Regions from separate parts of the Homo sapiens genome. Here regions 1, 2, 3 and 5 are each linked to region 4. The links come from fine-mapping of genetic effects on plasma protein levels. A gene starts in region 4. Each other region holds a variant in brackets. All regions are shown on one strand. Distances are between the middles of the regions.

Evidence for each region. PIP is the posterior inclusion probability: the model's chance that the variant is causal. Protein levels are from antibody-based Olink assays in UK Biobank. Linkage for the fine-mapping came from a reference panel and not from the study's own genotypes, which makes the PIPs less certain.
Region 1: its variant is fine-mapped to the plasma level of the GFRAL protein (UK Biobank, PIP above 0.99).
Region 2: its variant is fine-mapped to the plasma level of the GFRAL protein (UK Biobank, PIP above 0.99).
Region 3: its variant is fine-mapped to the plasma level of the GFRAL protein (UK Biobank, PIP above 0.99).
Region 5: its variant is fine-mapped to the plasma level of the GFRAL protein (UK Biobank, PIP 0.93).

Annotation. Positions count from the first base shown.
Region 1 is chr6:55,003,042-55,008,153 of GRCh38, forward strand. No RefSeq gene overlaps it. Among named protein-coding and RNA genes, the nearest start is that of FAM83B, 160 kb to the left of the region's middle. The variant C/T (reference allele first, on the strand shown) is at 2,956.
Region 2 is chr6:55,883,716-55,888,827 of GRCh38, forward strand. No RefSeq gene overlaps it. Among named protein-coding and RNA genes, the nearest start is that of BMP5, 11 kb to the left of the region's middle. The variant C/T (reference allele first, on the strand shown) is at 2,667.
Region 3 is chr6:54,951,253-54,956,364 of GRCh38, forward strand. No RefSeq gene overlaps it. Among named protein-coding and RNA genes, the nearest start is that of FAM83B, 110 kb to the left of the region's middle. The variant A/G (reference allele first, on the strand shown) is at 2,547.
Region 4 is chr6:55,325,554-55,330,665 of GRCh38, forward strand. It overlaps GFRAL (GDNF family receptor alpha like), which reads left to right and starts at 1,916. Exons shown (of 9, transcript NM_207410.2): 1 at 1,916-2,023. The coding sequence starts at 2,002.
Region 5 is chr6:55,564,500-55,569,611 of GRCh38, forward strand. All of the region lies in intron 1 of HMGCLL1 (3-hydroxy-3-methylglutaryl-CoA lyase like 1), which reads right to left. Among named protein-coding and RNA genes, the nearest start is that of HMGCLL1, 12 kb to the right of the region's middle. The variant C/T (reference allele first, on the strand shown) is at 3,042.

The DNA.
Region 1 (5,112 bases), 320 kb before region 4:
TTCTACTACTGTTTTCCTCACTCACCATGTTCCATATAAACCATACCTAAAAGCCTTTTGATGTATTTCAAACAAACCAAATTTCTATTTACTTTAGAGTCTTCATACTTCACATCTGAAATACTTTGCATATCTGCACAGGTTGGCTTCTTCTTTCTACTCAGTTTAAACATTCCTTCCTTATTGAGGCTTTCTTAGCACCCAATTTAAAGTAGCCCCATCTGGGTACTCTTTGTGGCTCTAGGTGTAAATACCCCTAGTTTACTAGTATCATCAGATTGTCTTGTAAGTTTCACAGCTAAAGGGACCTCACTGTGCTGGCCACCACTGTATTTTCTAGCACTTATATCACTACCACATATCAAACAGGTGCTCAATGAATATATACGTATAATGAGTATATAAACGAATAAATAGAAAGAAATGAATTTCCTGATAATGAGAAATGCTGAGAGAAAAAAACAAGAGGGAAAGGGAAGATGATTGTGGAGGAACATTCATCAGGTAGGACTTTCTGAATGAGGTGAGTCACATTTGAACTTGAAGAAACATGGGCTTTGTCCTTGGAAGGGAAGACAAATGTATGCAATAGACCTGTATTTCAAATAGATATTTGGAGATGACCAGAGCTATTTCTAGAATGTGAAAAAGGAACATTATTGGAGTAGGGAGGGGGGCGTTGTTGAGCAAGATTGGTAAAAGTAGGTTTTAGTCTATAGGCTGCCTAGTTCAGATTCAGCCTAGGGAATGGAAGTTTGTACTGGTGAATGAATTACATTTTTAAAAATCTGAATAATTTAGCACCTCATCTCTGAATAAAAGCCTTATGGTGTCTGATATCTCAAGTGTTTTTCTAAATCGGTGCCTGGAACAAGATGTTAAAAGCAAGAGCTTTGGAAACAAACAGATGTGAGAGTGTATGCAGGCATCAATTTGCCAGTTGTCTGACATTGAACAGTTACTTAATCTCACCTCCTGAACTCCAAATTGCAGTTTTTTTACAAGATTAATTTTAAGAATATAAATAACTCAAAGCCATGAGTGACACCAGAAGGATTAATAAATGTGTGATCATTATCATATTAATATGTTAAAGCATAGTATCTGATGTGAGTTTCAAACCTGTTATTGAAATTGCTCATTTCACTATAGTAGTACCAGCCAGCTCATTATCTTGTCTCTCCACCCACCACACGGGTGCTGACAAACGTTGGTATCACTGATAAAAATGGTAGGGTAGGCTTAGTTTTAGAAATGTTTTGTAATGGAGAAAAATAAGTAGAATTATCTTATAGGTGGCAGAATACTGACATTTTGGATGTAACAAATTGCATTTGGCTAAACACTTAAGTGAAATTTTAAAAACTAAACTATGTAAGTTAACTTTCTTAGTCAGGTCTTTGTACTCAACTAATAATGGAATGACTGCATTCTTGAAAAGTTCATTCATTCACTCACACTCACTGAGCACTGACATTGTGCCAATCAATGGTCCATGTGCTGAGAAAATAGTGCTTAAAAGCAGACATGACCCTTGGCTCTCATTGAGCTTATGGTATTGTGGAAAAGACAATTAATAAATAATTCAAAAAACTAAAATTACACAGTGATAAGTGCTATAAAAGAGAGTTACATGATTCCATGGAATTCCATAATGAAGAAAGCTTACTAGAAATATAAATTTCTATAAAAATATTTATAGGTTCCATTAACTTGAATTAAATGCATGGCAAACTGAGAAAATGGATCTATTATAAACCTAGTTAAAAAACATTTTTTTAAATATTTTTTCTTGGTAGTTTGTTTTGTTTTCTTTTTTCCCCCCTTTATTTCTTCTTAAAACAAAAGGGGATACATGTACAGAACTTTGCTGAAGTTGCTCATCAGTTCCAGAAGTTTTTGGGCTGAGATGATGGGGTTTTCTAAATATAAAATCATGTTGACTGCAAACAGAGACAACGTGACTTCCTCTCTTCGTATTTGAATACCCTTACTTTCTTTCTCTTGCCTGGTTTCCCTAGCCAGAACTTCCAATACTATGTTGAATAAGAGTAGTGAGAGAGGGCATCCTTGTCTTGTACCAGTTTTCAGAGGGAATGCTTTCAGCTTTTGCCCATTCAATATGATATTGGCTGTAGGTTTGTCATAAATAGCTATTATTTTGAGATATGTTCCACCAGTACCTAGTTTATTGAGAGTTTTACCATGATGAAGGGATGTCGAATTTTATCAAAGGCCGTTCTGTATCTATTGAGCTAATCATGTGGTTTTTGTCATTGATTCTGTTTATGTGATGGGTTACATTTATTGATTTGCGTATGTTGAACCAGCCTTGCATCCAAGGGATGAAGCCAATATCATCGTGGTGGATAAATTTTTTGATATGCTGCTGGATTTGGTTTGCCAGTATTTTATTAAGGATTTTCGCATTGATGTTTATCAGGAATATTGTCCTGAAGTTTTATTTTTTTTTGTTATGTCTCTTCCAAGTTTTGGCATCAGAATGATGCCGACTTCATAAAAGGGGTTAGGAAGGAGTCCCTCCTATTCAGTTGTTTGGAATAGTTTCAGAAGGAATGGTACCAGCTCCTTTTTGTATTTCTGCTAGAATTCAGCTGTGAATCTGTCTGGTCATGGACTTTTTTTTTGGTTGGTAGGCTATTAATTACTGCCTTAATTTCAGAGCTTGTTATTGGTCTATTCAGGGATTCAACTTCTTCCTGGTTTAGTCTTGGTAGAGTGTTTGCATCTGGGAATTTATCCATTTCTCCTAGATTTTCTGGTTTATTTGTGTAGAGGTGTTTATTCTCTGATGGTAGTTTGTATTTCTGTGGGATCAATGGTGATATCCGCTTTATCATTTTTATTGTGTCTATTTATTTCTTTTCTCTTTTCTTCTGTATAAGTCTAGCTAGCAGTCTATTGTGTTAATTTTTTCAAAAAAAAAAACAACTC[C/T]TGGATTTGTTGATTTTTTTGGAGGGTTTTTCGTGTCTCTATCTCCTTCAATTCTCCTCTGATTTATTTCTTGTCTTCTGCTAGTTTTGGATCAGTTTGCTCTTGCCTCTCCAGCTCTTTTAATTGTGATGTTTGTATGTCAGTCTGAGATCTTTCTGGCTTTCTGATGTGGGCATTTAGTTCTATAAATTTCCCTCTTAACACTGCTGTACCTGTGTCCCAGAGATTCTGGTATGTTGTCTCTTTGTTCTCATTGGTTTCCAAGAACTTCTTAATTTCTGACTTAATTTCATTATTTACCCAGGAGTCATTCAAGAGTAGGTTGTTCAATTTCCTTGAAATTGTGTGGTTTTGAGTTATTTTCTTAATCCTGAGTTCTAATTTGATTCCACTGTGGTCTGAGAGAATATTTGTTATGATTTTAGTTCTTTTGCATTTGCTGAGGAGTGTTTTACTTCCAATTATGTGGTCAATTTTAGAATAAGTGCCATGTGGCGCTGAGAAGAATGTATATTCTGTTGATTTGGGGTAGAGAGTTCTGTAGACGTTTACTAGGTCCACTTGATTCAGAGCTGAATTCAAGTCCTTAATATACTTGTTAATTTTCTGTCTTGTTAATCTGTGTAATACTGAGAGCGGGTTGTTAAAGTCTCCCACCATTATTGTGTGGGAGTCTAAGTCTCTCTGTAGGTCTCTAAGAACTTGTTTTATGAATCTGGGTGCTCCTATATTGGGTGCATATATATTCAGAATAGTTAGCTCTTCTTGTTGAATTGTTCCCTTTCCCATTATGTAATGCCTTTCTTTGTCTTTTTTGATCTTTGTTGGTTTAAAGTCTGTTTTTCAGAGACTAGGATTGCAATCCCTGCTTTATTTGCTTTCCATTTGCTTGGTAAATTTTCCTCCATCCCTTTATTTTGATCCTTTGTGTGCCTTTGAATGTAAGATGGGTCTCCTGAACACAGCACACTGATGGGTCTTGATTCCTTATCCAATTTGCCAGTCTGTACCTTTTAATTGGGGCATTTAGTCCATTTACATTTAAAGTTAGTATTGTTATGTGTGAATTTTATTTATTTATTCATTTGAGACAGAGTTTCACTCTTGTTGCCCAGGCTGGAGTGCAATGGCACGCTCTTGGCTCACTGCAACCTCAGCTCACTGCAACCTTGGCTCACTGCAACCTCCGCCTCCTGGATTCAAGCAATTGTCCTGCCTCAGCCTCCTGAGTAGCTGGGATTACAGGCGTGTGCAACCACACCCAAATAATTTTTGTATTTTTAGTAGAGATGGGGTTTCATCATGTTGGTCAGGCTGGTCTCGATCTCCTGACAAGTGATCCAGCTGCCTCAGCCTCCCAAAGTGCTGGGAGTACAGGCATGAGCCACCATGCCCCACATATGTGTGAATATGATCCTGTCATCATTATGCTATTTGGTTGTTTTGCACACTACTCAATGCAGTTTCTTCGTAGTGTCATTGGTCTTTATATTTTGGTGTGTTTTTGCAATGGCTGATGCCAGTTTTTCCTTTCCATATTTAGTGCTTCTCTCAGAAACTGTTGCAGGGCAGGCCTGGTGGTAACAAACTCCCTCAGCATTTGCTTGTCTGGAAAGGATTTTATTTATCCTTCAATTATGAAGCTTAGTTTGACTGGATATGAAATTCTGGGTTGAAAATTGTTTTCTTTTTTTTTTAACAATGTTGAATATTGGCCCCCCATCTCTTGTGGCTTGTAGAATTTCTGCTGAGAGGTCTGCTGTTAGTCTGATTGTCTTCCCTTTGTAGGTGACCTGGCCTTTCTCTCTTATTGCCCTTAACAGTTTTTCCTTCATTTCGACCTTGGAGAATCTGAAGATTATGTGTCTTGGGGTTCAACTTCTTGTGGAGCATCTTAATGGTGTTATTTGTATTTCCCGAATTTGCATGTTGGCTGTTAGGTTGAGGAAGTTCTCCTGGATAATATCCCGAAATGTGTTTTCCAGCTTGTTTCCATTCTCCCCATCTCCTTCTGGTACTCCAATCAATCATAGGTTTGGTCTTTTTATGAAGTCCCATATTTCTTGGAGGATTTGTTCATTCCTTTTCATTCATTTTTCTCTATTCTTGTCTGTATGTCTTATTTCAGTAAGGTGGTCTTCAAACTCTGTTATCCTT
Region 2 (5,112 bases), 560 kb after region 4:
TTACTTTACATAATTGGGAGCATTGGGTTTTGAATTAGAACTGATTCAAGCACTGGTTTTGCTACTGTCTGCTTTGTTACATGTGAAATGTCACTTAACACATCTGCCTCGGTTTCTTTACCTTAAAAAAGGGATATTAATAAGAAATATTTCAGAAGATTTTTATAATCATTAAAGGATGCAGTATGTGAATATTCTTTCATAAATGTAATCACTATCTTAGCATTTGTCACATTATTCAGATCACTGTGGAGAAGTGTATAATTTTCATACCTTTACAAAGAGATCGCCCAAAACATTTAGCATGCTACTGCACATTTAGATTTTTAAAAATATGGTAGTGAAGGGGAGGTGTAGTATATAGCATTTTCCAAAAAAATTTTACTATGGAATCACAGTATCTAAGGAGCTAAGAAGGTGATTATCCAAGGAGCTGATTGCCATCATGCAAAACATATCCTAAGACTGATTTTCAACCAGAACATCTGGAAAAGAGTACGTCTGTCTTGTTATAAATGGAGAAGCAAAATAACACAACAATTGAAAGCCTCTGCTCAGGAACTAGACTAAATTTGTATCTCACTCCACCATTTCATAATTGTATAAGCACTATCTGCCTCAGTTTCCTGATCTGTAAAATGGAGATAATGGCAGGTGCTATCACTTAGGGTTTTATGAAGATTAAATAAGTTAATAAACATAAAAAGACTTGGCATGGGTCCTGACACAAAATAAATAATAAGTGTCAAGTGTTATAATATTTTACTACTTCTTGAAGGATGGAAATTTCTTCTTATGCATTATTGTTGCCTCAGTGTTATAGGAACAGTGTTTGATATATAGATGTCCAATAGAATGAATATTCATAGAGTGAAATTTATAAATTTGCTTAAAAATATTTACAAACCATCTATAAGCAATGACAACTATTAAATTAACATTATAATTATTCATATATTTTATTACTTTACTAATATTGTATCAAAGTCTAAGAAATGTATGTCACAATTGTGACTGGTCCATATAAACTTTTACACAGTTTATATGACAACACAGCTTAAAAAAATGCATTCTCCAGTTTAATACATAGCAGTCAAAATGCTTATCTACTAAAGGATATTTTCTTATGCCAATATGACCTATAACAACACTAAATTCCTTGAGAAACACACATAGAAGTAAGCAAACATAGTATGAATCCAAGGTATAAAAATCAGTTCACGGTTTTTGCTCTCTCTCTTCCCAAGTCTCACTGACCAGCCGTAGACAATTTGACTGTCATTTCCGCTCTTTCAATTGAGAAGCAAGTGAGTAGAAGAAAGATAAAATTATAACTAGTGTAACCTATTCTGTCCTAGAAGTCTTTCTTAAGTTAGCTGGTTAAGGAGTCTTACATGAATAAATAAGTCATTTAAAAAGACTTTGTCACTAACATTGATAAGTGAAAAATAAATGCATTTTATTCATTTTGATAAAATCAATTATAAAAACTTATTTGGGCTTACCAAATAAAAATAGCTATCATTCAAATATGTAAAGGCTTTGTTTAAAACTTGTTTCAAATTTGCTATGAGTGGTTCATTAATTTATATTTAGTATTATTTGCCAAATATACCCAATTCATAACTTTTATATACATATTTAAAGATAAAATTCTCAAGTTCAAAAATGTAATTATAATAAATGGTAGAATTTACTTTTTCCACGTTTATGAGAGTAAAAATGAAAGTCTTTTGGTGTTCAGACCAAACTCAAAAAAAATCCCTAAACTTCTGTTTTAGAATTTTGATGCCAAGCCTTTGCTAAGGAAGTAACAATCCACAGCACTGTTGCAAACCTCTAAAGAAATTAGTTTTTATACAAACACTGACAGGCTCTGACCATCAGTGGCATTAGAAGGCGCCACCATAATTGCAGTCTCCTTAAGACATAACTTATTTCAGGCTAAGTAGGAGAGCCAATATTTTGTATTTTAATTAAGAAACCTGGATTTTGTTTGTAATAATTGACTGTTAAGTCAATTATTGCCAGGACATACTTGTAAAAGAGAATTTGTGCCTCCAATAAGCTTTCATTTAAGATTTTCTGGAACAGATTTGGAATTTGGGATTGAAATCTGTTTCAATTATTTATGTTAGCTGCTTTCATTGTAATACTAATAGCTGAAGATTGTATTTGTATGTATTTTCAATAGATGAAAATATTCATAAATGTTTATTATTTTCTTCTTGAAGAAAATGTTGAAAGATAATGATGAAATTATATTGTCTGTTACGAACTCTCAATCCAAACTATTCCCCTTATTAACTAGTTAGACATGAAGATAAATCACTGTTTTCATAGTGTTACAAAATAAATTAATTAATATTAAAGACAGAGTAGAACACCAAAGAGACAATCTAGTAACAAAGTATTTTAGATGTAAAACACCCATATGATGATGTTGAAAATGTCTAATTTTTGGCTGTTCAGATCAAACTATTCTATACAGTAATGCTTTAATGTTCTTATACTCAAAAAATGCTACTCAATTATAATTATTTTAAGTACATGTGATAGTAGTATTTATTAATTTAATAAAAGTCAATTGTTTTAAAAGTTAATTAGAATACATCTGAAAATTTTACCTCTGGAGAATGAGTTTCCAAAGGAAACTAGATGGAACA[C/T]TGCCACCTCTTGGTTATATAAATTGTAAAGTTGCAGAAATTTACTGTAACCTTTTTGAATGGAAATGTTTAGACACACTTTAAGCTTTTAGAAATAATAATCCTATCTCTATTGCTATGAAAATATACATCTTTAAATTTTTGCTTTTCAGTTACAGTTCTTTAAGTATTTCACTTACCATTTTACTAAGTTTGTCCAAAAACTCTTGAACTTTAGAACCTGGAAACAATTCTTCATGTTTATTTTGTAAAGAATGGCAAGTAATGACCTTGTAATGAAAAACACAAAGGGACTTTTATATCCTGGGTCTCTGTTATGAACATTTCTATTACTTCTTTTATACCAAACCACACCACTAACCTAGAGAACAGTATTTTGCAACGACACACTCAAATATGCCGAAACACTAATTACATTTCTTTCGGCTAGAAGGATTTATACCTTCTCACCCCATAAGTATTTTATGTACACAGTTTTAAATTATAGGGTAAAAAATTATACAGTAAGTACCTAGGCACATCTAGAGACTAATTTCGTGGGTGAAAAGAAATGAAAGGCTCTACATAGACATAGATTTCACGTAGGACAGGATCTGAAATTATGAGGTTGTCTCTACATGGGGTCAATGTAAAATAAAGGAAATCAAGGATGGGAAGGAAGATATACATTGATAAATAAAGTAAATAAAGGAATTGGTTCAACAACAAATTTCAAAAGTAAATAAAGGAATTGGTTCAATAACAAATTCTATTATTATTTTTCAGTACAGTTCTTACAACCTGACTGTAGTAAAAAAGCACATCTCTTGCTACATAAGTAAACAGTAAATCACATGTAATCAAAATAATGAAGTGAAATATACAGATGAGCTTAAAGGAAAATAAGAGAAATTCCTAGGCACCAACAACAAAGAAGAAATGTAAAACCAGATAATTTACAAAATGACTCAATAGATGTTTAGGGGGTTATCAGGCTCAGGAAAAGCCGCATTTCTAGGGGATGCAGATTAACTGTCCATATAGAGACATGAATATTACCTTGGACTTACATGAAGATAGATGTTGAACTTGAGATCCTTATAGAGAGCTAGGAAAATAAAGGGGGGACCTCTGAGCAATTGAAGAGAGAGATAAAATAATAACCCCTAGTGAAGTAATATTTGATTTGGCCTAAGGATATAAGTGAAAAATAAATTAAAATTCTCCTTTAAAAATTAAAACAAGGCCAGGCATGGTGGCTCACAACTGTAATCCCAGCACTTTGGGAGGCCGAAGCAGGTGGATCACGAGGTCAGGAGTTCAAGACCAGCCTGGGCAAGACAGTGAAACCATCTCTACTAAACATACAAAAATTAGCCTAGCAGGGTGGCGGGCATCTGTAATCCCAGTTACTCAGGAGGCTGAGGCAGAGAATTGCTTGCACCCGGGAGGCAGAGGTTGCAGTGAGCCAAGATCGCGCCACTGCACTCCAGCCTGGGCAACAGAGCAAGATTCCGTCTCAAAAAATACAATACGATACGATACGATACGATACGATATGATACGATACGATACGATAAATAAATAAAATTAAATAGTTCATGGTACTCTGCTGTCCTTAAGGTTAGTGGTAGAATTCCCAAGTCTCAATATTAAAAACTTGTTTTAAACCAATTGAACAAACATAGCATAGATACATATTAATAGCTTCCCTTTAAGCACTAGAGTCCACAGAATTCTGCACAGGGAGAAAATACTTATTAAAGAAAAGTTTAAAATCAAAAACTACAAACCATATAAGGAAGCAATCTAAACTGAGCAGGAGCTGTCAAGTAAGACAGCAGGAAGTACTGCACATCCCCAAACTGGAGGGAATAAAACCATCCAAAGTAAACTTTTAAAACTATGTTTAAAATGGTAAAGCCACAACAAAAGAAATAGAAATCATAATTTTTTAAAGCAGGACATTGATAAAAGAACAGGAGGATTTGAAAATTAATAAAAATTTAATAGAAATAAAATTATGAACACCAATTTTTTAAAAAATCAATCAATAAATGGTCCGATTTCACACAGCTGAAGGGAAAAATTTAATGAAGATAGATCTGGGAAATGTATCCACATATATTACAAAAAAGATACAGAAAGAAATATAAAAAAGATAGTTGGATATCTATCTTTTCAATACATGGCAGGTTTCTCTTAAACAGTGTCTTTGTCTCAATATAATATTTACAAAGAGATTTCAATAACAACTACCCTAATAGTCACTACTATTAATACTCTCAAGTATTGCTTGAAACAATCATAGAAAAACTTTCCATGGTGCAGGTAGCCAAATAGTAAGAATGTCTTCAAAATTGTTAAAGAATATTCATATGTTCTTCAGTGTAAAAATGTGAATACCTCAAGAAAATGTTTTGGTTTAGGTCCTGATACAGATAATGGCAGCCTCTAAAATGGCCCC
Region 3 (5,112 bases), 370 kb before region 4:
CTGTGAGTACATTAAACCTCTTTTTCCTTATAAGCTACCCAGCCTCAGGTATGTCTTTATCAGCAGCGTGAGAACAGACTAATACACCCATTAACCTGTGGATAAACCTGCCTTGTCCACATTCTTAATTACATCACCATTTTGCATTATTTTGAAGCACATCTCACAGGTCATATGTGTGTTTTCATCATGTATCTCTAAAATTTAAGGATTCTCATCTAATGTAACTGTAATACCAGTACAAGTTATTTCTTAATATCATCAAAGATCCAAAAATGTTTTTCTTTGTTTGGCTGATAGTCAACATTATACTTCACTTAAAAGACCTGTCCTTAATATTATACATTGAGGATTGATTTGATATTAGATGTGGAAAATTTCGGACAAAATTTTTGAGTTAGTTTTCAACAGAGATGTAAAATGGCAAACATGGTATACTTTAAGCATGAAAATAACTTTTCCTTTACATTGCAAGTAAATGAGAAGAAAACTGGTATCTTTCCAGATTTGTAGTCCTTCCCCAAATATATACAACTTACTACTCACTCATTTATCAACTTTATTCAAACATCACTAGGATTTTTATTTATAGGTATACTTACTAAGCATGTTGCCTTATATTGATTCATTTATTCATTCACTGAAATTAAATGTCCATTATTTGCTAGATAACTATGTTATACTCATCATCCTTTTTTCCGGGAGCACAGTTCAATGAGCAAAGAGTCACAAACACACAACTAACATGCCACATGAGAAGTCATAGTGGAGATACTGCATACCAGTAAGATAAAAAAAGAGATATTCTATGCAGAGAAAAAACATATACTGTAAAAAGAAACAAAAGCATAAAAGGGGTTGTGCGTGGTGGCCCATGTCTATAATCCCAGCATTTTGGGAGGCCAAAGGGGGTGGATCACGAGGTCAGGAGTTCAAGACCACCCTGGCCAAGATGGTGAAGGCCTGTCTCTACTAAAAATACAAAAATTAGCTGGGCATGGTGGTGGGCACCTGTAATCCCAGCTACTCAGGAGGCTGAGGCAAGGTGGAGGTTGCAGTGAGCCAAGATAGCACCATTGCACTCCAGCCTGGGCAACAGAGAAAGACTCCATCCCACCACCTCCCACTCCCCCAAAAAAAGCATAAAAGGTATTTTTCTATAACATTTAAGTTTGTATGGTTTGACTTAGCATTTATGGAGGTGCAAAGGAGAAACAGCAAATGTTAGAAAACAGATTTTAGAGCCAAATTGTAAGGGGTCTTATGTGCTTAGCTCAAGTAGACTTTACCTTGGAAACAGCAAGGAATTCTTAGAGGCTCTTAGATACAGAATGACCTTTATTTTTATTTTTGGTAAAAATAAATCTCAAGAAGTGATACAGAAGATGGACTGAAGGGAAATATGGAGACTTGGAGACCAACTAAGCAGCTATTTTAGTAATCCAAGAAATTTGTAATGAGTGACAAACTAATACAATGGCATTGGGGGAAGAATAGGAGAAAAATTGAGAATTATTATGGAATTGAAAGAAAAATCAATAACAAATTTATTATTTTTATTTAAAAGGGGGTGAATTTTAGATAATTCCAATATTTTTATCTTTGGAAACTGCAGTCTCCTTAGCTTAGATAAGGCATGTAGAAGGAAGAGCATGTTCCATGTGTGTTTGTGTGAAGGGCATGGGGCACAGTGATGGTGAGTCATTTGCAGTTGGATTATGTTTCAGTTGACCATGAGACACCTGGTTATAGGTACCCACTAATGGTGTGTACCTGGAGCTCAACAGAGAAGAATGATAGATGGGGAAGTAATGTGCATTGGAGTCTATAACTGAAGCGATTAATACACAGGGTAAGATAGTGCAGGGAGAGACAGAAAGAAAAAAGAAGTAGAGACAGGAGAAAGAGAAGAGAAGAGCAAATGGTGGGTTTTTTTTGGCCTTTTTTTTTATTAATGTCTATGGAATAAATGAGTCTTCTCTGCTAAAAATCTGTTTCTTTTATTATTTATTGTGTCTTTTAAATAGTCAGGGACTTCTCCTAAAATCTTTACTTGGAAACTCCTGATTAAAATCCAAGATGCTGGCTATATATCTTATATACTGCTTCTGCGTTTATGAATGTGTATAAATACATACCAAAATTTCTCAAGATGCCAACAACCATAAAACTGCCTTAAGCCAAAAGTAACTTCCAAAGAAGATTTTGATGGCTCTCTTATTCTAAGTGTGTCTTCTATTGAATTTCTCTTTATCCAGATGGTCTATCATGATGAAAACTCAAACTCAAAAGTGCAACATTTTCAAAGATCTCTTCTAGTCTGATATCATTTGCTGAGTAAAGTGACTATTCTGTTTCACAATAGAACCAGGCTTTGACAGAGTAACTACAGCAGAACTATAAAGAAAGATCTAAGAGCTAGAGTTAGAACTAGAATGACTTTTAATGGGGCATGGAGTAAGTGAAGTTTCTTACTCTCTTTCATCATCTGAGAGGAAGGCAGAACTTAGAATATTGGAAGCATAATAGAGATGTTTTGTACCACA[A/G]GAGATGGTCCAAAACAGAACCCAACATTTGGAAATACAAACAAAGGGTAAAATGAGTTCCCCAAATATTGACAAATGGAGCATATAAACTGCTGGTTTATCTCAGAGCAATTGACATAGATAGTTATGGCTGGCCACAAGGACCTTTCAATCCACTGTTTCTTCTTCCTTCTGGGATTCTCTGATAAGAAAGCACCTGATGCCCCACCACCTTTAAGGCTTGGCTGAGAAGTAGCATTAAACTTAGACTTGGCAGGCTGCTGGGTGCTTCCTACTGCACTCCTATCCCTCTCTGCCACAATCTGTCCCTCTACCCAACCATGTTTACTCTCATATACACCAGTAGTATTCCTGCATCCTGATGAAGAATGGCCTATTCAATGACTTAGTTTCTGACTAGTTTGCTTAATAATTATTGCACCCTTGCAGAATAGGAGAGAGTAGTCAGAGGCACATGCTTGGGTGGACATTGTATCCTCTGTGATAAGAAATTGAAAAATAAGAATGAAGTATACATGCTTCAGAAGTAGGAACTTGGTTTGATAAATAGACAAGGTAGAACTAACCACTATGATAAGTGAGATTGGCAAAGAGTGTCACAACACTGAGCTTCAAATTATTGATCTGGAGTTACCTTGAATGTGGTCAAGACCAGTTTTAAAGATCAAAATAAAATTGAGCTTGAATTTATAGCAAAAGTGGAACAAATAGGGCATTGTATAAATTGCATTTTAATTTAGTCAAAGGAGTAAAATAAATAGATAGGACTCGAAAGCATCTGGAAAATGCATCAGTGGCAAACTTAAGTAAGTTACCGAAGCATAATTTCATGTGTTTGCCCCTGAACATCTTGGTTACATACATCAAATTTCTCTTGTTTTGTGAGGAATTGATTTAGACCAGGGGTCCTCAAACTTTAGCATGCATCTAAATTGCTTGAAGAGCTCATTAAAACACAGATTTCTTGAGGTCCACCCCCAGAGTTTCTGAGTTAGTAGGTCTGGGGTGGAGCTTGAGGATTTGCATTTCTAAGTCCTTGGATGATGCTCTTGCTGCTAGCCTGGGCATCATAATTTGAGTCATTGAATGCTAATTTTTTAGTAATGCTAAAAAATACTCTTAAATCTTAATTTCAGGAAAGGTTACACTACCAGAATTGAATGTTGACATCATGATGTTTAACAAATTCCACAAAGATAAAATATTAAAACTTGTTCTTTTAGGCATGATTTTCCTTCTTTACCATCTCTTATAAAACCTGTCTCTCATGCACATTATTAAACACATATTTGATGAGCCCCAGTTTATTTAATTGTATAGGGAAAGATACTATATGCTCTTGTTTGCTAGTTCTACACACACACACACACACACACACACACACACACACACTTCCTAGGACCTATATTTGGTTAAACGAGATTATATTGGAGAGAAACCACACTTCTTCCATCTTCAAGCTTAGAAATAATTTCCCGCATAAAATGTTCCCTCTTCAACTTGTGCAAAGTTAATTTATTTGCCTTATTGAAATTTGAAGGTTTTGCTTACTTAGCCGTAAAATGATATGTGCGTCAAAAGTGGAGAGGAATTATATCTGTACTAGTTTCTCATTGAGACAAATCTTATTTGTCTTTGTGCTAATGCATATTATTTTAAATAAATAACATGTGAAATTAGATTGGGAATTGTGTACTCTGTATCATTGCACTTTATTAAAATAACATTTAATTTGCCAGTTGAGAATGGAATATTTTTCTTTTCTCTGAAAGTTTTACCATCTTTAGTGACAAGGCAGCTCATTTGCTGTTCCTCCAGAGCTCTGTGGTTGCAATCAGTTTGATCTGGCTACTCTGCAGAAAGAAACACATTATCAAATACCCTGTACTTCAAGTGTGAATTCTGAAATTTTTGAGAAACCTATCAAAGACAATTTTTAAAAATTTGAGTAGGAAACAATAAGGTGCTGCATATAAGAGCCTCATTTTCATAAATAACAGCAGAATCCAAGGTTCTCACTCTGTCACCTAGGCTGGAGTGCAGTGGTGCAATCACAGCTCATTGCATCCTCAACTTCCTGGGCTCAAGCAATCCTCCCACCCAAGTAGCTGGACTACAGATGCACATCACCATGCCCAGCTAATTTTTTAATTTTAATTTTTGCAAAGATGAGGTCCCACCTATATTGCCCAAGCTGGTCTTGAACTCCTCCTGGGCTTAAACTACCCTACCACCTTGGCCTCCCAAAGTGCTGGGATTACAGGCGTGAGCCATTGCACCAGTCCAGCCTTTTACTTCTTGAATCGATGTTATATAATCACAGTAAAGAGCTACTGAGTAGTTGTGTTGACACTATTCTAAGACAATGCACTAGAATTATATTTTTAAAACACACTACTGGTTTATGTATTCTGTTCAGATTAAATTAAAATAATGAATGAATTTTAAGATATATTTGAATGCATCTGACTATTTAGAGTAGGATCAAAAATTAAAATAAAATGGAAAGATAATCAGGATTGGAAATTCTGTGCATTGTTATGAATGAGAGAATACCAAGGACTCC
Region 4 (5,112 bases):
CACTCTAGAAAGTCATAACTATATCGCCTTCCTTGAACAGAAAATTATGTTATTCTCTTCCTTTGTTTCATAAGTTTATTTTCCTTGTGGTTGCTCTTCTTAAACTCAGCACTTAGATACATTACTAAGCATGTGGTTTTTGCTGCCCCAAGATCCCTTCAGCTGCTTCTTCTAATACCATAATTTTCCTTCGTGATGCACACCTTCTGCACCATCAGATTCTGTGCTTTGAAAAGGGCCAACTACACTGACAACCTGTATCTATGATACTGGACATGGGGTAAGTTCCTTTTGTAAAATTGATTGGCACTTGACACATCTAGAACTGATGTGACTTAATTCTGCAACTTTAATAGTAAAAGAATGACACTTTCTACCCTGCTTTCTAAGAGAGAAGGATGTTTGCCAAGGGCTTCACAGCCATCTTCCCACCAGAAGGAAATAGCCTTTCTGGGAATAGAACTGGTAGAGAAGAATGCAGGTAAGAGACAGGAGGAAACAAACAACTTAGACCCAGAGAAAACAGTTTAAAACACACCTGAAATTAATTCTTCCCACGGACTCTTCAACTATGGTAGTAACCAACTCTGTCCTAGTTTAAGTCCTTTTAAGTTGGCTTATATCTAAGCTTGTCTTGGTAGAAGTCATTAGGAAAGTTTAGTGACTCAATCCCTTGAAAAGAAGAAAAGATTGATTAATTTTATGATATTATAATCCTTCTATTATGTAATAATTAAGTCAGTGAATGTAATATAATCAATTTTTTTGTGATATAAGCCCCTCATATACATACCTTATATTACAGCAAGAATTAATACAATTGACACATTTTACAAAGGAGTGAATAACTTCCAATGCTAAGTCACTCATCTAGATCTATAGAGAAAAGCAGTGTTATAATTTTTGTTTGTTGGACTCTAGAGTCTGTGTTTTTTCATTATGCCTGCTGAAAACAAAATATAGTATAACTTCTCTACTGGTATAAAATAAACATGAACAATATGCAATCAAAAACTCAATGGTGTAACTGCACAAATACTTCTCTCCCATCCCTATCTCTTCTTAATTTCTTGCCAAAGCAGCATTTTATTTTTTAAGCATTCATTCTAGAAAGGCCTCCAGGTGATTTAGAAATAGAAGTCTCATGACACCCCAAGAAAGATGATGTGCTGTAGGTTTACATGAGGAAGGGCGTAGCCAAACCAAGGCATAAGATAAATAAGTCCCTTCATTGAAACTAGGAAAAAAAATAGTTGTCAAGTGATGCACACAAATGTAGATGATTATCTTTCCAGTGGAACATAGAATTTCTGCATCACTGAGAAGAGTATGTTTTTTACACTGTAGCTGTACTTGGAAGGTATCAGATACTGTAGCTGAAGTGGCATAATTTTTAAGCATACTGGGGTTTGTGGCACATGTAATACAACATTCTTTGTTTGGGAAGCAGCTTCCCAGTATGTTTGAGTTATATCAGGCTAATTCTAGTAGAACTTCGATTTTGCATACATTTTCCAGGGCTATTATGCGTTTTTAGCTTTTCTATATCCTCAAATGACATGAAATTGCCTTAATGAGGCTAATTAAACAAGTGGAGACTGAGTATGCTCAAGTGTCTTTGAAAATTTTGGGTCATATTTGGGAGGCTTTTACGTAGTGTTGTATTTTAGTTAAGGAAAATAAACCTTTTTCATGAACGTGCAGATTATGTATCATTTCTCTTAGTATTTGGCTCATGGGCTTTCTTAGAGGCATAATATCCTAATATTCAAGACCAGCACCCTCAGGAGAATAATCGAATTTGAATATAATTAGAACAGTTCACAACTTAGGAAACACTGGGGAGGAAATGATGATATAGGAAGCTGACTTGAATTGGTAATGCCTTTAGGAAGCAAACACAGAGGCTGAAGCCTTATTCTGGACAGTTACTCTTAAGAAAGTTGTCAGAAGAAACGCATCTGCCTTTTTTTCCAGGTGAACTGCCGTGAGTTGTCCAGCATGATAGTGTTTATTTTCTTGGGTAAGTGAATGGTGCTTCTGGTTTATCTGAATTATTCATAATACTAATTCTTTGTAAACTGAATACCATCACACTTAAGCTTAACAGGGGCTTATAATATGAAGTACCAAGTAAATTACAAATTTATGCTTTAACATGGTTTATTCTTCTTGCAAAAATGTACACTCACTTTTACTCACTTATTTCTAACTCTATAGATAATGCAGCATGTGAAAATTGTATTAATCTCTCAGCTTGTTTCTGTTTTATTGTATAGAATGACCCAATGACTTTGAGTTACTTATTAGGATTAATGGAATTCACACATGTGTTAGAACCTTTTAGAAATAAAAATAAAACCTTCCAGTATCTATTTACAAGTTATAAGATGAAAAATTTCAAACTGTTATCTATTTTATTTATTTTGCTTTGAAATTAAACAAAAATAAGATTAATTTAAAACATTCAATTTACCTACAGTGTTAATATTTGCTAACTAGAAGTAATTTAGTGAAGTAAAACCACTTAACACCATATCAGAATGCTTCATATTTTCATTAATTTTTATGACCTAGAACTCAAGTGTGGACTTACTTCTCTTGTATTGGATCCGATGAATGTATTATAAGATGTTGATGAAAAATAATTTATTTTTATTTAATGTAGAATCCATGAATCTATTTGCTAGATGTGTGACTGGAGAATATTTTATATCTTCTTTAGCATTTGGTAGAATCTATAAACTGAATTCAGAAAAGGAATAATTGTAACTGTAGCTAGATTGTAATTTTAAAAATATGGCATTTTATGTTTAAGCTAATATATACTTGAATAAAGGCATAATTATGGGCCAGAAAGCAAAGAAGTTTACTTTAAATTGTATCGAACATAAAAGGAGAGTCATATCAAGTCAAGGAAACAAGTTAAGAAGGAGAGAAATCCCTTATATTTTCAGTTTTTCTTTTGTTTAAGTAATATTTTTCCATTGTTCCATAATTTTGCTTTTTGTAATTATTCCTAAAATATTTTCTTATTTTTATAAAGATTGTTAATATTTCTTTAGTTCTTTTTTGTGATAAAGAGAAATATAGGAAACTTTAATTTTTATAGATCAGGCAGCAATATAATGAAGCTCACAAAATACATTACAGACTCATTATGACCTCAGTTGAAAAGGCAATGGCCTCTTATTTTCATCTTTTACTTCTAAATTAACTTGACACCAGGTTGCATGAAGGAGGGAAATAACTTCTTAACATTGTTAGAACTAAAATTATACTATTTGATATGTTGTACCAACATTTCCCATATTATATTTTTTAGAATGCTTGTTTGACATTATCTAAATAGGTCTTATAATGAGGAAAATGTCTGTTGGTAAAGAAATGTGGAAAACAATGAATTTTAAAATCTCAGAACATTTAGTAGGATAATAAGCCCCATACATCTTTAAAACACTGATATAATTTGCAGCATTATCCATCTTATTAATTTAAAAATAGAAGTTATTTTTCATTGAGTATTACAGGAAAATTCTTGAAAAATCCTAGGTTAAATACAAAACCACAAGTCATAGTTTGGAATGAATAAGACAGATTTTGGAGAGGTAATACATTCTTGATTCTTGTGGACCAAATCATTGAGGTGGTTTTCTTAGTTGAGTCAATATTTTGTTGAGTAGGAAGTGTGGAAAATCCTATAAAATAATCTATTAAGAAGCTTGTTCAACCAAAAACTGAAAATGTGAAAGGAAGTAAAACATTAAAAACTGAAAATGTGAAAGGAAGTAAAACATATTTGGGGAAGACAACATGTAGTATTTCTAAGTGATTATTACTCTGAAGTACTGATGAAGTTTTGATGATATATCTGGGATATTATCACTTATAAGATTCTTGAAGGGGCTTTTCACAAGATATAATGATTAATGGCAAATAAAATACCATTTTCTTATAAGTTGAGTTTATGACTTCAAATTTCTATTTCTGGGTCTTTGGAAAACTGGATTTGACCAAGTAAATTTGTGCTAGGATCAAAAGAGTCCTCTTTTTCTTTCTTTGGGCTAGCCAAATAAGGAGTACAAGGGCTTGGCTAGATGAGGTTGTCCATGAACACATGAGAAAACAGAAAGCTGATATGTCCATTTCCACTCCAGCCCTCAGCAAGAAAAATGTTACCAAGCTACACCCATGGGCCTAATCTCCAAATGCAGTGACCCAGCAAGTAGTACACATGGTCCAATCAGTTGTCTTGGATTCTTCTTATAAGATGAGATTTGCAAAGAGGTAAGATTTAAAAAAAAAAGAGAGATTTCAAGCCCTTACTTGAAGCCTATCACTCTACATTGTCACAGGTGATTCATAATTAACAACAGCATTTAAAAATTCAAATAATTTGGCTCTTATTTAGTTATAGCTTGACTCTCTTGATGACAGTTACTACAACTGTCTCTGTAACACAATTTCAATCCCTGTATTTTTTTCTATTAATTGATTTGGCTAGTGTCACTTCATATGTTTGCAGAATCAATTTGACTAACTTGCGTAACATATTAAATTAACATTGCTATTTTCTTGATTGTTTTTAGAAAACTTGCTGGATTTCTCCTCTAGCAAAAGTAACTTGTAAATATCTGGAAGGTATTATTTTTTAGATGTTATCAGTTATTTATATATCTTATATATAAACATCTAATAACTTGGGTATAAGCCAATATTCATTTATTGAATACCTATACTGCATCACTGTGTTTGGTGACAAAAATACAGTTATAAATTATCCTTAATGTCTGTGGGTAAAGCTGTACAATCCAGTGGTGGAGACAGGCACATGAATATATACACTACAGAACAGTAAAATCTGTAATTGCGGGATCCCCACAGTTCTAGTAAATGGATGGAAGATGTCAAATTCAATTTGAGTGTGGAAAAAGGGGAGTATAGAATTCAAGTAAAGTTTCCAGAAAATAGCTAATGATTGTGTTCAGTTTTAAACAACAAAAAGGGTTATTCCAGAAGAAAAAGAAAGAAAATACTTATCAGGGATCAGACAGTAGGTATGCAGAGGTAGAAGACAGCATGGATCATTCGGGAAACGATAAATGCTTGAGA
Region 5 (5,112 bases), 240 kb after region 4:
TTATACTTTACACACTATGGCTTCAGATGGTCTCTTATAAACAAGATTAAATATTCAGTGGTTTGAAGCAAAGTAAATATATTTCCCAACAGAAGTTATCCAAGAATTTTCATTATGTATGTGAATTTTACATTACACAATATTTGGTATAAATGCAGTAATACATTTTACACAAATTTGATCTTTTTGATGACTTTGAGTCAATGGTACATGCTTTGATTTTGAGCTACTTTCTAAAGAACTAAGAAAGGATGCATGTATCAGAAATAGCCTATAAAGCTTACAAGAGTTTTGGTGGTGTGGCATGTACAGAACAAAAGGAGAAGGTCATGAAAGTTTTCAAAAAAAAAAAAACCACTATGGAATAACTTTACAGAGTCTGAATAACATGTCTCTGAGAGAAAAGTGATTCATTCAGGTTTTTCCACCTCAGCCTGTGAATGTTGGGTCTCAACATGAATTAATGATAGAAGTTGAGCTACTTCATCCTAAGGATTTGTAGCAAACTACAATTTGTTTCCTTAAAGTGATAGCTTAATCTAGAACTTAATTAATATATTAAAAGAAAAAAGTTATCTTCCAATGAGTACTAGATAAATAATTGTATTATTATAACCTAAGTTCCTACTAGTCAATAGACTGACATTATGCAGTGAAAAACATTCACGCTTTGGTACCTAGTGTAAGTTAAAGTCCAGTACCTCTACCAGGTGAGTGGCCTAGAGTGGGTTTTATTAACTCTCTGAGCCTCCATTTCCTTATATTGAAAGTGAGAATAACAGGATCTTCTTTGCAAAACTCTAAGAGTTCAAAAATTATGTAAAGCCTTCAGCAAAGTCACTGAAATTATTTTGCTACTTGGTAAAGAGGAGTTAGTATTATTCTAATCATATAATTTTCCAGATTCCTATTAATAATACTCTATTAATGGTTAATGTAGTATTTTGTATATTGTGTATTATTTCATTTGTCCCATGTGATGTAAGTTGCAAATTGACAGCAAGTATGTTAAAATAATACTACTGCCCTTATATAACACTTTTTAATTAAGACAAATGATTGACATTTTATTTAATAAATTATCACTATATCTTTCCCATCAAAAGGTCAACATCTGTACAAATTCTTCAAAGAGCAAGTAGATTTAAGGGATCCAGCTCTCTAGAGATGAGTATTTATGCAAGCTTTATGTTCCATCTTTTTTAGCTCAAGTTTTCCTTTCAATATTTTCTAGAACATACATTTAGCAGAATTAAATTAAATATTAAAATACGGTCATAAGGGAATGGGGGCTAAGTGATAGTAGACATTCATGAGTGAAACCCTGAGTAACTATATCTGTTTCTCCAAGGTCTTGAAATTGTCTTTTAGACACAGTCCTAAAACCTAGGCAAGCAGAGTTCTAAATTACTCTCAGCTTTAACATTTGACCAGGTCCACAGTTTTCTATAAAATGCAAGGTTTGAACTGTCTCATATCATTTTAAAAATTAAGGAGTTATCAGCCCTTACATCAAAATTCTCAAAAATGGAAATTGTGTCTAACAAAAATAAGATTCATATTTTGACTTCAACATTAACCTATGATCAGTTTCTATTTCACAGTGAAATAAATATGAAATTGAGTAGAGAATTTAAAAAGTGAATGCCAGACTCTGTACACCCAGTGGGTTACAGATGTATGAAAGTGGTGGCAGAGAGCCACTCCACTTCCTTCAAGATCCAAAAACATTTGGAAGGAAAACTCAGAAGGAAAAATGTCTGACAGACATGTTCTCTTTGGGGCTTCCTGCCTCATTGTTTGCCAAGCTTCCTAGACCCTATTGCTTCTTAATAAAGTTCACCAAAAAGACTTTATGAAATGCAGATTTCATAGAATAAAACTTGTGTTAAAGGCGTTTTTATGTAGTTGAAGTTTTCTGCCATCTGTATTTCTCTACTTCACAAAATCAAGGAAGCGTGACTTGGAAAGTTATAAGTGTAAGGTGACATTTGAGGCACTTACTATTGGTGGAAAAAAGAGCCCGAACACTGAATCCTAAACCGGAGACCATAGCTTAGACATTGCAACAGAGAAGCTGCTTAACCCTGAGGGGATCATTACATCCTTCAATGTTTCTACTCCTTCTCCTGTAAAATAGAGTCATGTGAACATGCATATTGTGCACTGTGTGAATTAACTTAATAGAAACACAGATATGGAAAAGAAATGAAAAGTTGGAATCTAATTTCTCTGATCTTTACAACAGTAGCCAAGAAAAGGAACAAATAGGCTTTCAAATTTTCTAAAAACACCACCAGGATTTAAAAGTAGGCATTATAGTCTAACATGAAAAAGAATAAATAAGAACTAAAGCTACTAATTTTACTACTCAAAGATATATTTGATGTAATTAAATACATATTTTGCCAATCAGAAAGGCAGTTAATTTGGCTAAAATCACCTAAAGTTTAATACCAGAAATGTTGGTTATATTTACTTCTATAAACATTTAATGAAGACCTAAGTGTTTATGTCCTTGGGATAACAGAAAACTAAATAAAATATAGCCACATCCCTTAAAAAGACCTCAACATACCAGTGCTAATATTATACATTTAATAAAGAGATATTTCATTCTATTCAACCATATTGTAAAAGGGAACATGAAGAAAACAAGGATGGGTATCCCAAGTACTTCAAAAGTATTGAGGTTGGCCATTGGGAGAGGTGAAGGATACAAAAGAAATAGTCTTAATACTTGTAAAAAGTGAGTGAACCTCCAAACTCATCAAATTTGAAAAAAAATGTATAAAACAATTTATAAGATTATGGGGTCTTAAAATTATTTTTGTAAAGTGATAGATTAGATAGATGGATGAATATAGATAATAGTTATAGTTTTATAGGTATACACACACACACACAACTAAATGAATAACTCCCATGATTTTGCTCTGTCAATTCCACCAAAATCATCAATCATCTTACTCTGAACAGGAATGCCTTCTCTCTATCCAAATCCCACCTGACCCTCACATCCACCTTCACCACAAAGATTA[C/T]TATTGTTATCACTAATTGAATTAAGCTGAATTAAAACAAGTTTATAGGCTTGTGTTTTTAAATGAATTGCAAGAAAAAATTGCAGGGAAAAGAAATTAACATGATCTAAATAAACAGCAGAATGGAGAACTGAACTTTCAAAGGAACACAGCAATGAAGAATGAAAATGTGGTCTGGGTCATGCCCTTGAGATAGAAGCTCTAGGCGTTCTGTTTCTCATAACACTTTGTCCCTCCTCTTCCACAGTGATACTTACAGCCCTGCTAGCGTCGGAGTGCCAGAACCCAGCTCTTCTGCTCTCTCAACCAGGAAAGTAAACCTCAGTTCCTTGTATTAAAAATGTGTTTGGAACTCACAGCTCCGGTCCCTTCATTATTGTTTAGAAACCACAGCTTTTGTTTATTTACTTATTTAATTTTCAGAGGTTTTCTATCCTTGTTATTACTTGGCAGTCATATAAACTATATGGGGGGAGAAACATTTTAAAAATAAAAACCTCCATGAATCTAAATAATTCTAAAAATGACCTTCACATAAAATTATTTTATGGTCTGGTTTTGGAATGAATGTTTTGGGAACAACATTTACTAATTGGTATTATTTTCTATAAGAAAAAATGTAAAAATTGGCTTATAAATATGGCTATATCTGAGAGAAGAAATTAAAAACACCTGAGTTTTCATTTAGGACTAAATTCTGATCACTTAGAAAAAGGGAGATTGTCCAAAAGGGAAGATGGCAACCTTCTGGCAATTTAAAGATAATTTCCTGCTTGTTGAATGATAATGAATGATTAGGCTCCACCCTGCAGAAAAATAATCCAGTGTTCAGAAATGGTCTCATTTAAATATCCCTATGTAATTGTTCATGTGAAAGATCATAAAACCAAACATCTATAATCACAGGAAGATAATCTTGATTCCTGAGGAAGCTAAATATATTAATTAATAGTGCAAATTCTGTTTAAAGGCATTCAAGTTTACTTATATTTTAACTGCAGTTTCAACTAAACAAAATATTTCAGGGGTTATATTGGGCTCACCTAGGCTGATAATTTGCAACTACTACGTAGACTAACAATACATAGTCAGAACAGTGGTGGGAAACTGGGATTCTAAACTTTGTTTTCATTATTAGGGCTTTAAGCAGGCTGGACAATCCCTTTCAAATCTGAATTTCTATAAAAATGATAGCCTCCAAATACACAATTTTGCTTTATATCTTTTAAAAACCATGGGTCATATGAGAGTAACCCACTAAGTTATGGGTGTGCACGGTCTAGCCCCTTGGTTGATTAGGGGAAGTAAAATGAAACACACACACACACACACACAAACAGCTAAACTTGGAAGGGGATAGACACAGAAAGAAGAAAGGGTCAGGGAAAGTTACAGCACAGAGTGAATAAGCATAAAGAAAGCCAGAAGACTTGGAGGAGCTCAGAGCTAATGAAAAAAACAAGAACACAGAGTAGGGGGAGGGAAAGATGTGAAAGCCAGCTGGAATCTGAGAAAGCAAGAAATACAGGAGCCAACAGAAATCCAAGGACAGAAAGTATTGAAGATTGAAGGGAACAGGAAATTTATTGGAAACCAAGTTGTTTTTCCTTTTGTATCCAATGCAATTCTATTCCAGGCAGAACTCTAGTCTCAACCTCAAAAAGGATAGAAGGGAAGTCAAAAATCATAGCAGTCTTTTTTTCATGGGCAGGAGCCAGGAGCTCTGGAAAGACAGATTAGAGGAAACATGACCCTTTGACAGCAGATACAGGGGTAGAGGAGTAGCAGCACCATCCAACACAGTGTTTACTAAAATTGGGTTAAGTAGAAATAAAGATAATTGGGCTCCAACTCAGAGCTACTGAATCAAAATTTCCTCTATATTTAATAAACAATTTAGGTGACTCTTATCACAAGAAAAGTTTAGGAAGCACTGGTATCATGGCAAAAATTGCAGGCTTTAGAACTAGAACTGCTTGAGTTAAAATTCTAGCTTACTAGCTGTTGATCATAGGCACATTTTTTTAACCTTTCTGAACCACAGTTACCAAATCTGTAAAATGGATTATTG